Regions from separate parts of the Homo sapiens genome. Here region 2 is linked to region 1. The links come from fine-mapping of genetic effects on gene expression. Tissue or cell type: unexposed skin. Region 1 holds a variant in brackets; the other region holds the start of a gene. All regions are shown on one strand. Distances are between the middles of the regions.

Evidence for each region. PIP is the estimated chance that this variant, and not a neighbour inherited with it, causes the effect.
Region 2: CDCA7L starts here. The variant in region 1 is fine-mapped to the expression of CDCA7L in unexposed skin (GTEx, PIP 0.97).

Annotation. Positions count from the first base shown.
Region 1 is chr7:21,773,296-21,781,295 of GRCh38, forward strand. DNAH11 (dynein axonemal heavy chain 11) reads left to right here. Exons shown (of 82, transcript NM_001277115.2): 56 at 471-704; 57 at 5,663-5,809. Among named protein-coding and RNA genes, the nearest start is that of CDCA7L, 170 kb to the right of the region's middle. The variant G/A (reference allele first, on the strand shown) is at 3,125.
Region 2 is chr7:21,941,346-21,949,487 of GRCh38, forward strand. It overlaps CDCA7L (cell division cycle associated 7 like), which reads right to left and starts at 4,554. Exons shown (of 10, transcript NM_018719.5): 1 at 4,436-4,554. The coding sequence starts at 4,459. RefSeq lists enhancers at 229-849, 4,363-4,512, 4,508-5,218, 4,903-5,152 and a silencer at 4,173-4,222.

The sequences.
Region 1 (8,000 bases):
GTTTTTACATGAGTTCTCATAAAACTGTGAGTTTCTAAGTTTTGGCTTTTTTTTTTTTTTCAGTGACTTTGCAGGGTTATTGCTTCTCTTTGTCTAAAGCTTAGTTTGAAAGCAATGGCAGAAATATTTCTCAGGATATTGTGTCTGTTTCTCCACCTTCTCTTTCACACACTCGGTAGATAAAAATCAAGTTGTGAAGATCTGTATATGCTGGCTTTTGTATTTGGTATGTGGAGCACATAAAAACCCTTTGTCCTACTTGGCAAGAAGAAGGTTACTCAAGCTGAATGCTTTATTGTAATCTCCCAAATCCTGTGGATAGCGCTTAAAGATTAAATAAGTTTTCGTAGGTTATACTATCATTTTTTTTTCTGACTTTTAGAAAAAAAATGATCATTTACTTGATTTTTTTTAAGTTGTATTTTTAATTTGAGAGGATTTCACATGAACTGTAATGTTTGTGTTTTCAGCCAGTGCACAAAGACTCTATTAGCCTTTTCATGGCACATGTTCACACCACTGTAAATGAAATGAGTACCAGATATTACCAGAATGAGAGAAGACACAACTATACCACCCCAAAGAGTTTTCTAGAACAAATATCACTGTTTAAGAACCTGTTGAAGAAGAAGCAAAATGAGGTATCCGAGAAAAAAGAACGCCTGGTGAACGGCATCCAAAAGCTAAAAACCACAGCCTCTCAGGTATGACCAGGATGTGTTATTACTGAGTAATATTTATGCTGTTTAACAGAAAAATATATTTCCTTTTGAAGCACTACTAAATCCATTTCTATAAGATGCCAGCTGGTGAAATTTACAGTTTCATGACACCAAGAATACACTGCTACTGCTTTCAAAAGCCTACAATGGGATTGGCCGACTCACAGCTGGATTAGGGTGAAACGTTCTCTTCCTGGCCTGACTCAGTGTAAGGTAGTGTGGGATATTGAAGGGAGCAGACACAGCGGATTGCCTCTCTTGTCTCTGACTTCTTCAGTGCACGGTACTTGTCGTCAAGGTTCTTATCATCCTAGGATGGACCAGTATCTTTTTTGGTCTCAGATTCTCAACCTCCAGTGAGGGCATCATTTTCTGGCTAATGACTGTGGCGAGATCCCAAGGTAGAGCTGTTCCTCCCTTAGTGACTTGTCTGCTCCTCTTACACATCTGTGTCCTCAGTCCTGAGGCCCCTGCTCCCTCGAAGGGCGATGCCTCTAACTTGCAGGAGTAAATCAGGAGAGAATCATCACAGGATGTTAATCATGTGTGGGTCTGTACACATATTATCATTATTTCGTTGTTAAAAAAGGATTTCATGAAGTAGTTGTTACTACTATAGTTTTATATATGAGGCGTAAAGAGTTTAAGGCCAGAGAGCCAGTGAGGTTGGGTTTTAGACCCAGGTCTGTGTTGCTCTGATGCCCATGAGTTGTCCATGGCACTGTGCTGCCTCTCTGTGGCTGGAAAGAAGAGATTGGAATGAGAGACTCTGAAGACTTTGAAGAGTAGCCCAGCCTTATTCTGAGCCAGTCAGGACTTAGAGCTGGAGTGAGAAGAATCCTCACTAGTGATCACCTCAAGACTAGAAATACTGGTGGCCTTCTCAGAGTCATGTCATCAGGTCAGACTCTCATATGCTTTACAAGGATTGGGGCAGTGGTTTCCCCGAGTGGCCTGGGTAACCCACCTGTGGCTAGGCTAGAAATGAACTGAGACCCGAAGGAGGGAGCACCTTTTCAAATGGGCACCTTTTCACTCTGAAGGGCTCTCTGGCCATGTCCTTCAGTCACTCTGGGCCAAAGCACCACTTGCCTCTTTTTCTCTTAGTTTTCTATACCAAGAATGACTCTGTGACAAAACACTGTGATCTGTACTAATAGTGAGTAGATGGACCACAATTAGGAAAGAGAAACCAGGGTGAGTAGGTTTCCAGGACGGTTGGGATCAAGTGATATTAAGAATAGTTTCTAGGAAACCCACAAATAGCATATCCATATTTGTGCACCTTCTCCTTTCCTCTCAAAGAACGTCTGTCTAGGCCAGGCACAGTGGCTCACACCTTTAATCCCAGCACTTTGGGAGGCTGAAGGGGGAGGATTGCTTGAGTCCAGGAGTTTGAGACCAGCCTGGACAACAAAATGAGACCCAATCTCTACAAAAGAATTTTTTAATGAGCCGAGCATGGTGGCGCACACCTGTAGACCCAGCCACTTGAAAGGCTGAGGCAGGAGGATCCCTTGAGCCCAAGAGTTTGAGGTTACAGTGTGTTGAGTGGGTCACTGAACTCCAACCTGAGCAACAGAGTGAGACCCTGTCTCAAAAAAAAAAAACAAGTCTGTCTTTCCTGTCTCTTTTTATTCACAGCTTATTTTACTTTCTTAACTTTTGCCCCTCTCCATGTCAGTTTTCTTCTATCTGTCTATCCTCTTCTGTCTCATTTAAATCAAGACCCCTTTCCATAAGAAAGATTTTCCCTGGAGTCCTGTTGGGCTAGATAAGACGAGGAAGGAGCTCTGTTTCACAAAGCATTTATATCCCTTTGAATGCCGTCCTAAACTGAACCTGTTGACTTTGCCCACTATCAGGAAATGATAGTATTGTCACCCAAACTGAGCTTTCAATACTGTGGGGGCATCCTTAGCAAAGAGATAAGTGCTTCTGCCATACTTAAAGGTTGTGAGCTAAAAGCAAGTGGGGTACCATCCTGGACCATTCCAGTGGTGGCAGCATCTCAGCCACAGGAAAAAAGAAGAGGAGAGAGACTGTGATTTCTTAATAGTCACCTCAGTTACACATTGATGAGTCAGGGGGATGGGCAAGGAGAGAGACGGGAGGGCCGATTCACTATGTCTGCCAAGTCCAGGGCTGCTTGGGTCTCTTTACTTCCCCTTAGCTAAGAACCACAGGCAGAAAGTCTGTAAAGACACAAGACATCTTGATTGACCATGAAGTCTGATGGAAAGACTGACGGTGATTTCTTTTCATTAGGTATTTGTGCATGGAATGCTCTTACTATCAAAAAAGTGGTTGGAATATTCAATAGCTACATGGCAGTTTTAGAAATAAGTGGGTTATAAAAAGGGGATGGTTTCCTATGTGGAGAATTGGAGAACCATATTGCA[G/A]AAGATCAGGTTGTATGGAGAGCGTAATGCCTGTATATTGGGGCATGTATCCTCTAAGGGTCTGCCTTAAGGAATGCCACATCATTTGAAAACATTAGCAATGTTCCTTCTTTACAGTAAAGCTGTAAGCACCTTTTATAGCCAAATAACCTCTCTCTAGATGTCAGCTTAGGTCATCACAGATAGTCCTAGTGACCTTTCTTCATAGAGAAAGCCTTGCTTCCACGGCTTCAGTCACTTTGAATATTTCAGAGCTAACAGCTTCCTTAGAAACTGAAATTAGGGCTTGAAATAACATAATTTTGTCCTAGTCTCTTGGGTGATTCTTTTTGCTTTATTTCTATTTTGAGATGATAATAGATTCAGAAGAAATTACAAAGCATAGTACAGACAGGTCCCTGTCACATCTTATAGGTTCAATGGTAGCATCCTGCATAACTAGTACAATGCCAAAACCAGGAAAGTGGCATTGGTACAATCCACAGACCTTATTCAGATTTCCAGTTTTATTTGTACGTGTGTGTGTGTGTGTGTGTGTGTGTGTATGTTTTATGCAGTTTTATCACATGTAGGTCTGGGTACTCACTAACACAGTCAAGACACAGAAAACTTCCATCTACAGAAAGATCCCATGTTGCCATTTTATAACCACACCTACGTTACCCCCCACTTCTTCCCCACCTCCTGAATCCTAGTTCCTGGCCATCACTAATCTATTCTCCATTTCTATAGTTTTGTCATTTCAAAAATGCTATACAAATATGTAACCATTGGGTATTGGTTTTCTTCATTCAGCATAATTCCCCTGAGATCCAACCGAGGTATTGGGTGTATCCATAATTTGTCCTTTTTTATTGTTGAGCAGTATTCCACAGAATGAAGGTAGCACAATTTAACCATTCAACCACTGAAGGGCATCTGGGTTATTTCTGGGTTTTGGCAATTATAAATAAAGCTGTTATGAATACCCGTGTACAGGTTTTTTTTTTTGTAGGCATAAATCCACAAACAACCAAAAATGAAATTACTGAATTGTGTGGTACTTGGATGTTTACATTTATAGAAAACAGGCAAATTCTTTCCATAATGGCTGTGACATAATACATTACTACCAGCAGTGTATGAGAGAGCCAGTTTCTCAGCTCGCTTGCAATAATTTGGTGGCATCTCTAATTTTTATTTTAACCATTCTAATAGGCGTGTAGTGATATGGTGGTTTTACTTGAATTTTCCTGATGGATGATTCTTTTGACTATGGCCTAATCTAATACTAGTTTCATATGGCTAAAAAGAACTGAGAAGCATGTCACTATGCAAAGTTACCCTGAATTTATAGACAGGCTGAAAAATCAGTCATAGCTTAATCTATAATAGTACAAGTAGCAGCCATAGTAGTAATCATGCTTTTTAGATAGAGTGTGAATATACTGTGTTGGGTGGAAACTACAAGATTACTTGGATATAGTAATGGGGCGTCGTTCCACAAGATGAAACCACTGAAATGTCTTTAGCATTTGAGTTAAAATAAATGTAAATGGTTATGATTGTTCTTTGCTGCTATGATTTTTTAATGGTAATATTTATACTTTTGGAAAAGAAGTGCAGTGGAGAGATAATTATTGTGATGTGTAAAGCTGCTTTCAGATATTTCTGAGAACTGAGTCATGTTTTTTTTCTCTAGTACCTCACTTCTGCTTTTAGTTACATGACCCTCAAACTGAGGAACCTAGTAATGCTTTCTGAACCTGATGAAATTATAACTGAAAAAAATGGACAGTTCTTTTTAGCAGATGAATTCATGGATTCCTCGGAAGGCTGAGTTCTCCAAGAGCTGAGTAAGGTTATTTAGTGATGGACTGATGGGAGACGTGTATGCCTCTGAAGCTCACTGAGTTTTGGCCACAGCATACTAATACCCCAAACACACAGTTTGCTCTTCTTAGCAGGTATTAAGTTGAATATTGGGTTAGCTTCATGATCATAAATGAGGTGAAAAAAATCAAGAGGCCTATTTTCTGTTTGATGGGAAGAGGTGAGACCTATCAGTGGGCATTTTAATATGCAGCCAATTAATCTGCAGTCAGGCAAGGAGCATTCATGTCGTCAACTTACTGAAGCCTCCAGCAACCTTCTGTTGGACAGTGAGAGGCATAGTTCTTCCAGCTCATCACCAAGTATGTCTTCCCACAACCTCTGCTTCCTTGAGCCCGAGCTGCCTAGGACCCAAAAGCAGACGTGGGTAAAGGAGCATGTGGTCAGACAGAGGGAAGAGCAACTTCCCTACTTAACCTGTTAGTGCTGACAAAAATTAATTATATTTCCTGCAAAATCATTGGAAAATATTATTCTGTTTGTTCTCATGTGGAGAAAAACAATGTGGCTGCATTTTTGCAAATCAGAAGACAGTGAAAATCAGGGTAGAGACAGATGCAAGATACAAATTGTTAGAGATCCCTGAATTCATTCCCAGCAATAAGCTCTATCTGGGATTTGTTGTGAACAAGGCCAGTGACGTAAGAATAATGACTTTTGCTTTAGGTGGGAGATCTAAAAGCCAGACTTGCCTCTCAAGAAGCCGAGCTGCAACTGAGAAATCATGATGCCGAAGCTCTGATCACAAAGATCGGCCTTCAGACGGAGAAAGTGAGCCGGGAAAAGACCATCGCTGATGCTGAGGAGCGAAAGGTCAGGCTAATTCCAACATTTAGAGTGCGGAGCTATATTTAGCACAAAATAAACCTTGGTAGGTGAACAATTTTGAACAACTTCCTCTCCAGGGAGCATAAAGTCTAAAGAATTATTATAGTTACACATGTAACAGCATTTCACACCGTGATTACCACTTGACCTTTCTTTACATTATGCATTTCCCCAACCTTTTAGCTCTTTTAATGATATGAAAGAACAATAAATACTGAGCTCATTCAAGCATATAATGGATGTGGATCTTGAACATCAGGCCTATTTGTAATACAGTAAAGGTCAGGAAGTCACCTCTGAGGTTTTTAAAGGTTTCCACTTTTTAGGCAAATTGAACAACTCAATTGTTAACAAAGCCCATTCCGTCACTTTGCAAGATGGTTTTCAAATTTTGCATTTTAATAATACAACTGGAGTTTATTATTAAGTCCTAAGCTAAATTTGTTCTTTTTGATTCGATCGAGGCCCTGGCATTCTGTATTATGTTTTATTGTTGGAAATAATTCCCTTTAAGATTATATAGATTCTGCTTTCTTTCTACTCAGGTTTCTAGCAATTCTGAAATAAGTACACTGTCTTTTGTCATCTTCTTTTACCAAAACGTCAGCTACAAATGGAAGACATAGTTTTGTACATCTGATATCTCAAAAGAAATACCATAGTAAACAGAAAAATTTTAATACATACTTGTTTAAAAATTGAGTGTATATGTGTAAGGTAAAAAATTCTTATTTTAGACAAAAAAGTATAATCAGGGCCTAATTAATAAAAAGTTATAAGTTGCTAACATTCTCACAGCCATTGAATCGGTAGTGATTATGCCATTTTTCTTGTATTTTATGTTACCTGAAAATATTTGAGTTTTTCCAGTGGTGTTGCCATTCATATACAATTGAGTTGATTTTCTTTTTTTTTTTCCAATGCATATTGAGCATGTTTTCCTTGCACAACTAAAGGCTTGAAAAGTATATTGAACATCAAAACTCTAAAAGGACAGTTTTAAGAAATAAGATTATGGCATTAAAATTGAAGATAAGGCACATTTGGCATGCCCTATGTGATCAGCGGGCATGTAATTCCTAATTTGGGTTGTAAATGTTTCTGTTGAGTTTCAGATAAGTGGAGAATGTCCTTAAAAGTATATTATTGGGCTGAGTACAGTGGCCTGTAATCCCTGCACTTAGGGAGGCAGAGGCAGGAGGATAGCTTCAGCCCAGGAGTTCGAGACCTGCCTGGACAACATAATGAGACCCCATTCTCCATAAAAGAGGGGCAAAAAAGACAAAGCGTGTTATTCCATTGAGCAATTAGGTATCACACATGATACAGTCACCGTTAGCTAATTCTACCCAGGGAATATTTTTCAGGCATTACACAAACATGTGATGTTCTAGTAATTATATCATAACCTATCATCACAGATACTTTTTGGAAACTTAAAATATAAATACTCTAGAGATTTTTTTTTGCATTTTTACATTTGAATTCCCAAGGAAAAATTACCCTCATAAAAGGAGAAAGAAGTTTTAGCAAATTAGAACTCATCTGACAGGTTGTTTAGTGAAGTTCTTCAAACACAAAGAAGGGACATACTATTTTTTATGTTTAATCCATACCAAGACATAAAAATAAAACTTCTAAACATTTTCATTTTATCCATGGAGCTGGATGTTAATAACAAATATTAACATCTATTTTGTCACCAGGCAGTGTTGTAGACTATTAGGGATATTTGACAAGCAGGGGTCTCTCATGTAGATTACATTGCAGTGGAAAAGACCGACATGAGACAAGTAACACATTGAGAAGCTGGATATTTTGAGATAAGTGCTCTGATGAAAATCCAGTAGAGAGACATGATGGTGGGAAGGAACTATTGTAAATTGGATATTCATGGAAGAAAGTTCTTTTGTAATTAAACTAGAAAGCATCTAGAAATTCATCAATACCTGAATCCATGCTCTGTGTTCACATTTGTCATATGTTCAGCAATGTGCTAGATACTATGCTATGCCATACTAAAGGGGGTGAATATGGACTGTTTCTGGTCCTATGAAATTGGGATCTCAAGTCTTCAAACATGAGCAGTAATTTAAAAGTAATGCTGCATAACTCACAAAGTACACAGCCACGTTTAACATGACTAAATAAATGTTGGGGTTAGAGAATGTCTTGC
Region 2 (8,142 bases), 170 kb after region 1:
CAACAGCAATCATACTGTAAAGGTTAGACAAAGATGACGACTGTGCTACAGGCAAACACTTCATGGAAACTGCAGAAAATGGGGCACGGAGAGTAGGGGAAGCAGAGAAGTGGTTCAGTGCAGCTTACGGTAACATGTTATTGTTTGTACAATGCAAATTTCACATAAAAGTCATTCCTATGTAAAAGCTTGGTGGATCTTATTCACATTCCCAAACTGACTTTTACAGGCAGTATAAAGCATAATCTGGTGAGTTCCTAAAAAAGAACCAGACTAGCTGCTGTTAACACTCCAGCCCTTCTAGTTAAAGGGAGGAGGGAACAGGGCAAGTTTCCTGACTCACCAAGGCCCGGTGATTCCAGCAGCAAGGGCCAATTCCTTACAAATTGCCCTGAGCAAATTAGTCAATTTAGCCTTATCTTTAAAAGGCAGATAACACAACCTACTTCACAGAACTACAGTGGGGATTAAATCTGATAACTTTTAAGTACTTAGCACAGCATGACTTTTAAAAGGAAGTGATAGTTTCCATTCCTTGGGGGCAAAAAAGGATGGCTCTTAAGGTCTCCCTCTACTCTCCAAACCCAAGGTCCCCCAGGTCCCCATAGCACAGAGCAGGAGCCAGCTGAGCTCTGGCAAAAGCAGAAGAGGAAGGGAGTTCAAGCATGGCCTTCTGGTAGAGAGTGTGGGGAAAGAGGCGTGTTTTCTGTGTCTTTGTTCTTCCACCCTACCAATGCCTAGCACATAACCGGTGCTCAACTGACTATCTGATCAGTGTACTAACCCAGTCAGCAAGCCCTCTATCCTCAGCTGATGATCATGAAGGAAAACAGGCAGGAAACATCAACGATTTATTTGAACTAAAGCTCAGGCCCCTTGCACTGTGAGACTCCACACTTTATTTCTGTGCTGCATGCAGGGTGCTAGCATTTACTACTATGGAAGATACATTTTTCTGAGTGTTAACTTCAGTGGTATTTACCAAATATGCCTCTGAATGGTCCTATTTCAAAAAAACTACAGAAAGCACTGCTTTTCATAAACAAAAAGAACAAAATGGCCCCAGTAGTATTTTCTTATCTCTATCCCTACCTACTTTAAGTAGCCTGTAATCTATTCCATTTTGGTGAATAAAGCCGAGTCTTTTCTAAAACAAAACTGTATACTGGAGGTAAATATTCTAAAACATAACTTTGAGTAAAGGAAAACTCTCAAGAGCAGTTTAAATGTAATGCCTGGCTTATTCTATTCCAATGATGTTCTAATCTTTTTCATTAATTTACTCTAATGTTTGTAATTGTTTTAGGCCACAATTATCTCATTGTTTCCTGGCCTGTGTACCTGATCAGAATCATTATGATCTCTGAGGTTTTCGCCTGATTTTTGAGAATCCTGCTCTGCTATGGATGGGGTAGCCAGCAGAACACAGAACAACCAAGGAGCGTTTTAAATACAAGACTATTAGAGTGGCAAATCATTGTCCTTTCTGTGACCAGCTTCTGGGGCTCTGGAATTACATGTTAAACAACAGGATCAGATGGGAGCACTTTGCAGCTAAGAGACCAATACCAGAAAAATACCCCTTTACCCCTTCAACAGCGTGCTCCTGCCTATTTACAAGAACATTTAGCATCATTTCCTTCTCAAATGGGCCATCCTGTACTCTGGAGCTAGAACAGAGTACGAGGAGAACACTGACATTCAGTGCCTACCAGTTTCTCTCCTACGGAGCTGCAGCAAGCTGGAGCTCCCATGAGCTGCACTGTTGACAGCTCTTAGTCAGGGATCACACCCTTGCCTTTACGAGCTATTTCTGTCATTTTATATAAAAGCACAAAGACACAGTGGTCAGCACGACAAGACTACAGCCTGGGGGAAGCGTAATCACTGTCAGAGGACATCAAATCCAACACACTGGTGGGATGGCAGGAAAGCAGACTCGAAAGTAGTTCAGAGTAAATGAGTCTCCTTGTTTGCTTCTTACTCATAACATTAGGCCTAAGCTGCTTTGCTGAAACACTTAGCTCTGCGCTTTCCAAGCGATAGAAATTATACTTACTCCAATGTGTGAGATGAAAACCCACTGCACACTGAGCTGAGCGACATTTGATGTGCAGTAATGCCACTTCAGGTGGTTCATCACATTGCTTTATTCATAAGGCTGGGGGACAGGGTGGAACCACACGAATTTAACATCTTGCTGTGCCTGAAATGTTCATTAAGTGTTCTTATCCGCAGTCACCTGCCCACCCCACAGAACCACTCTCCACTAATTTAGAGACTATAATCTGTGCACATTTAAATTACGATGAACAGGAACATTTCCACTGGAAAAACCATCACACATCTTTGATTTGCACTGCCAATTAGGTCTTCAGAAAAGGAAAAAAAAAAAAACCCTGATCATCTTACATATAGTAATTTGCCTTAATTGGTGCATAATGGATCGGATATAATTTGTGGGTAACCCCTACATGATAAATAGTTTATTTAACATTTTAGAACTACCAAAAATTAGCCTCATTGTGTGGCAGTAAACGCTCACTTCCAACTACACATTCTGGGACTTCTGAGTTTCCTAAGCATGAATTATGAATATCAGTAGTGGAAGTGCAAAGAACTCTCCAGCTTAACAACAGGAGTGACACATTCCAGAAACATTTTCTGATTACATTCACAAGGAGCTCCGGAGTGATAAATTCCAGATACATTTTCTGACTAAACTCACAAGGAGCTCAAATCTCCATCCAGAGGGTTTGTTTTTTGTTTTTAGTCCTGTAGCAACAGAAACTCCTAGAAGGTTAGGACGCCAGCCGGAAGTGGTGGCTCACGCCTGTAATCCCAGCACTTTGGGAGGCCGAGGCAGGTGGATCACCTGAGGTCAGCAGTTCAAGACCAGACTGGACAACATTGTGAAACCCTGTCTCTACTAAAAAAAAAAAAAAAATACAAAAAATTAGACAGGCGTGGTGGCGGGCGCCTGTAATCCCAGCTACTCGGGACGCTGAGGCAGGAAAATTGCTTGAACCCGGGAGGCGAAGGTTGCAGTGAGCCGAGGTCGCGCCATTACACTCCACCCCGGACAAGAGCGAAACTCCGTCTCCAAAAAAAAAAAAAAAAAAAAAAGGATGCTAATACACGGTAAAAGCCAGTGGCAAAAAATAAAAAATCGAACCCTGTCTCATTCCGTAGGCTTTACTGTTTCCCTTGCTTTTAATAGTTTATCTCACAGGAGGCATTTTAAAAATATTCTCAGAAACATCAACAACAGATTTTTCTCAAGCGACCATTTTCAGGAAGGCTTCAGAAATTACTAAAAGGCCAAAGCTACCGTTAGTGGCTCAGTCTTTGCCGCCAGACTCGGGCAGGTGACAGCGGTTTGGGCTCGGGCGCCGGGCACTCTGCGCCTTCCAACGCTGGCGGCCCCGCCTCCCCTTCTCCCGGGCCAGGCACGCAGGTGGAGGAAAGTAAACACCAGTCGGAAGCAAGGTGGAAGCAGTGAGTCTCGCGACTCTCAATAAAACAAGTGGAAAAAAAAAAAAAAACAATCCTCGCACAAAGCATCTCCGTGCTCCCACAAGCAGAGGCGTGGCTGCTTGTTTCCCTTTTTAAAGGTTGTATTTTTAGTTCTTATGAAAAATGTTTTTATTGCTTACTTCTAAGTAAACATGTATCTCCATTACGATAACGTAGAGAAAAGCTCTTTTAAGAAGTAAAAAGAGAAAACTGAAGTCACGTTCACATTCCCACTACTCACTGAAACGTTTGGGGGAACTTACTCAAGTGTTTGCTAATGAGTTTTAAAGACGAGTTAGGCCCTTAACGCGTAATTGGGGTCGTGCTGTGCATATGATTTGGGATCTTGCAGCTTGTTTAACTCGGCCCAATGACGTTACCATTTCCCCCAAATGGTTACTAATTCCTTGAAAACGTTTACAAAAGTTCTAGAATAAACACTAAAGTTATTATTTTTAAACTCCATTATCCAAGTTGGACTGGTCTGGCGATCGACTGTTAAAAAAAAAAAATTACAACTTTCTTAAGCTTCCTGATCTCTGTGCCAATTCCCGGAGAAAGTGTGGGGAGTGCACAAAAAAAGCCCCTCCCCCGTCTCACGAGGGCTGCAAACGCAGGCGCTGCGCCCCGCTAGCTCCCCGCCTGCACCCCCGGCGGCCACCCGAGACTGAGCAGAGCGCCAGGCTGAGCGCGGTTGTGTGCTGGGGCGACCGGCCTCTGTGGTCCGCGTAGCACAAACGTGACCCACTGCGCACACCTGCAGGGCGCGCCCACTCCGGCACTCAACCGGCTGGGCGCGCCAGATCCCCAGTGCCGCAGCCAAGGGCCACGTTTCCAGCCCAAGGCCAGCAGGACCGGGTGGCAAAGGGAAGTCAAACTGTGGGTGCGTCCGGACGGCGGCGGGCGGCCGGACCCTCACCTGGTAGCGAGTCGCCAACTCCATTCTTCCTAACCGGGCTCCAGTCTCCTCCCAGCACGCGGCCACGGGAGCCCGGACTCACCACGGCCCGGCGCACCAAGAACGCCCCGCGCCCGAGCAGCTAGCGCGCTCCGCCCGGAGCACAGGCGGGCCCCGGGAGGGGCGCACTTGACGCCCTGGACAGGGGGAGCGCGTTGCGCTGCCCCCTCGGTGCCGCCTCACTGGGCCTCGTGGCTCCGATCACGTTCCAACTTCGCGGCCACTGACCTTGTCTTCGCAGGCGGCGCGAGAGGGGGCTGCAGTTGGGCGCGGCAAGAGCAATTACCAGTGTTAGGGCGCCGGGCTCCCCCCTGCAGCAGAGGGAGGGAGTGGAGCCGTCCGGCGGGGTTTAGCGCGGGAGAAATGAGGGGGCTGTCCCGGCGCAGCCTCCAGCTGGCACGCGCGCTGGATACTTGGCAGGGTTTATTCCAGGTCATGCCCTGGGGCGCGAGCTTCTGCTGCAACCCCTGTCTCTGATCCAGGCAAATATTGTAGGGCGGCTTTGGGGCTTGTTTTGTTTTGTTGTTGTAACGGGGCAGGGTTCTCTTTGGGAAGATTCTGTCTCCCAAAACATTTGCTACAGGGTTCACTTTGCAGAACAGGCAACCCAGGTTTCTTTACCAAGGCCCAGGTGGACAGATGCAAACCCGCCTGAAACTTTAGACGGCCATTACACAGTAGGCCTCCACACCCACCAGACAAAGAGTTTGTAGAGGTCAGGAATGCTGACTAATTTAACAGAATTGACCCCGGCATCTACTAAGCATCAGGCACTGGGCTAGTCCTAGGAACAGAAGGGTGAACAAAAACAGGCCCCTGCTCTGTTGGAGTTTACAGCCTGAGAGCCAGTTACCAACCTAATTGCATTATTCTAAATAAATACAATAATGATGCAAATAAGTGTAATAACGATGTAAATTTTATAAATTAGATTTATAATTAATATTAATTTGATACCACTATCAATGACAAATGTAATGATGATGCAAATAAATGTAAATTTGGAGCGATGATGCCATGAGAAAAAAGGCAAGTGGTATTAATGGTGGTGTGAAATAGGAAGACAATCTGATAGAGGTCAGGGAATACTTCTTAGAGTTCAGATATGAAGAGTGAGGAATTAAGTTTGTGGAAATTGTGGGAGAGTTGAAGTAGAGAGTGGGGAGAATGGTAAATGAAGTTGTCCTGAAATCACAGCAGGTTTGCTGGACAGTGTTGCACACCTATTTAGAACCGTGGTCATAGGTTTACAGTAGAGCATCCTGTACGCATAGGACCTTCTGCAGCCCCTCTCAGCTGCTTAGGATCTGACGTTCATCTTTTCTTTATTGAACGAGTGAATGAAATTTGCCAAACATTTACTCAAGCTTGAAGAGAAAACATGGAAAAGGTTTCCTTCCTTCCTTTGGTTAGTTCAGCAAACAACATGTGTTATGTGCTTTCATGTTCCAGCCCTCAGTGTTCTCACTTCCTGGTGGTAGTAAAACCAATACAACATTGTGTGACTTAAAATGTTTTGTTTTTATTGGATAATGTTATTTATTCATTATGGCCACTTCATTTTTATTATGCTTTAGAGTTTTCCTTCACATGCAGTATCTCCTTGAATCCTCTCAATATCCTTCCAGATCCTTATTGTCCACATTTTTAAAATAAGGAAACAGAATCTAAGAAAATACATTAAGAGATCCCTGCCACCCTGCCACTAAGTGACAGCAGCAGACTGCCAAACTGAAAACCATTCCTTATGCCTCCAGATCCAACATTCTTTCCATTTTTCTGTATTTTTTCCCTTTGGCTGCCAGGAAGCTTAGAGTGAAAATTAATTCAATCAGAGCTCTTCTTCCTCTTTTTTTTTTTTTAGATAGTTGCTTCCTCATGAACTGCTGATCTTGTTTGCACTTCTTTTCATTGTAGGTTAAATCAAATCAATTTTGGAAAAGGGAGCACAAATTTGAAGCAGGTCAGATTTTGCAAAACACTTGAAGCAGCCTAGACTAGCTACTTCTGTATCAGGAAACCTGTAAGCTGTTGAACCTTTCTGTTTAGAAATTTGCCATAACTAACCCTAAGTCTTCAGATGACAACCCCTAAATTTTCTTCCTGTGCTTAGCAAAGCCTGTACACGTTTGATGGTATTTAGTAATTGATTATATAGTGGTGTGTTTTGTTTTGTTTTGTTTTGTTTTGTTTTGGTCAGGCTTTGGGAAAATCTCTAAGGAACCAGAGGATTTAAACATGGCACTGCAGTAATACTTTCTAATAATTATTACTGATAGGGTTCACGGGATGTGAGCACTGGGTTTCATCATGGCACTGCAAGAATGAGTGTCCCTTCCAGATGCAACAGTATACATATTGCAACACAGAAAAAGAAGACATAATGTTTGCAACTTCTTTTAAGAAGTCTGTCTAGAAATCCATGCTTGATTGCTTTTTAAATGTTTCCATGAGAGAGTAAAAACTTGGTCCCCAGTACCTTGAACAAGGTAAGAAATTTGTGATTAGAAGCCAAAGGAGTTAATAATGCCACACTAAAATATGCTGCTCTGGCATATTCACTATTTTTAGTTAAAAGCACTTAAAAAAAAAAAAAGCAGGTAGGAGAAGATCACTCTGAACTTAATGTTGTTTCTTAAAAGCAGGAGATAAAATTCCCCTATGAAAGCTGTCCTCCCTACACAAGAAGGAAAGCCACATTCTTATCAAAGACAGGAAATTGAAGCTGAGGGAAATCTGTACAAACAAACCTTGTTAAACTAACCCTTATCTTCTCAGTCACTTCTCCACCCAATTAACTACACTAGCCCATGCCCCTTTGCCTCATCGCATTTTCAGTTTTACTACTCTGTGCAATTCACTATATAAATGTCCAACTCAAACTTCATCCTGGGGTCTTCATTTCCTTAAAAAGGCACCCATGCCACATAAAACTTCGATTAGACAAATCTATATGCTTTTCTCTTGTTAATCTATTTTATGTCAGTTTAATCCTCAGACCCAGCCAGGACCCAAAAGGATGGAGATGAAGTTTTACTCCCCTACAAAGCCATTATTGAACCTCATTAAATGATGTGAGAGAGCTGTAATTGGATGTCAACCCTGGCCCACGATTTTTGCTTTGTAAAAGGAGCCCAAACATCTCTCCTCTATCTGAAGTAGTATCTCTGCCGTCCCCACAGAGCTTAGTTGTGGGCAAACTCCCTAGTCCTCCCCACATAACAGAAAATCGTGCTGGTTTGGTGCTCTGGACAACTCACCAGAGAATCTGCCTTCTGCAGAGAGCTGGAAGCAGCATGAGTCTATAGAAACTGAGAGGTAATTTCATTAGGTCTGCCTCCCCTGCTTGCTTTTGGTCATTTGCCTCTTGGTGTTGTTTCCTTTTCCCACGAAGTTGAAGGCTGCAGTAGCTGAACACCGCACCACTGAACACTGAGACTTAACTTCACTGGCTACTTTATAGATAACGTTCATAGGTCACCGTGGTAACTGTTGCTTCCATTTTTTTTTTTTCTCAGAAACTTAGGCCAGCTTCTGTCCAGTTCAAACTGGTTGAGGCCACTGACTCTTCAAGTGCCTGAGAGGTGGCCTTTTGATGTCAGAGGGTCAAAAACTCCACCCTGAGATCATGCTAACACTGCCATTTTTCTGTACATATGTCCTATATA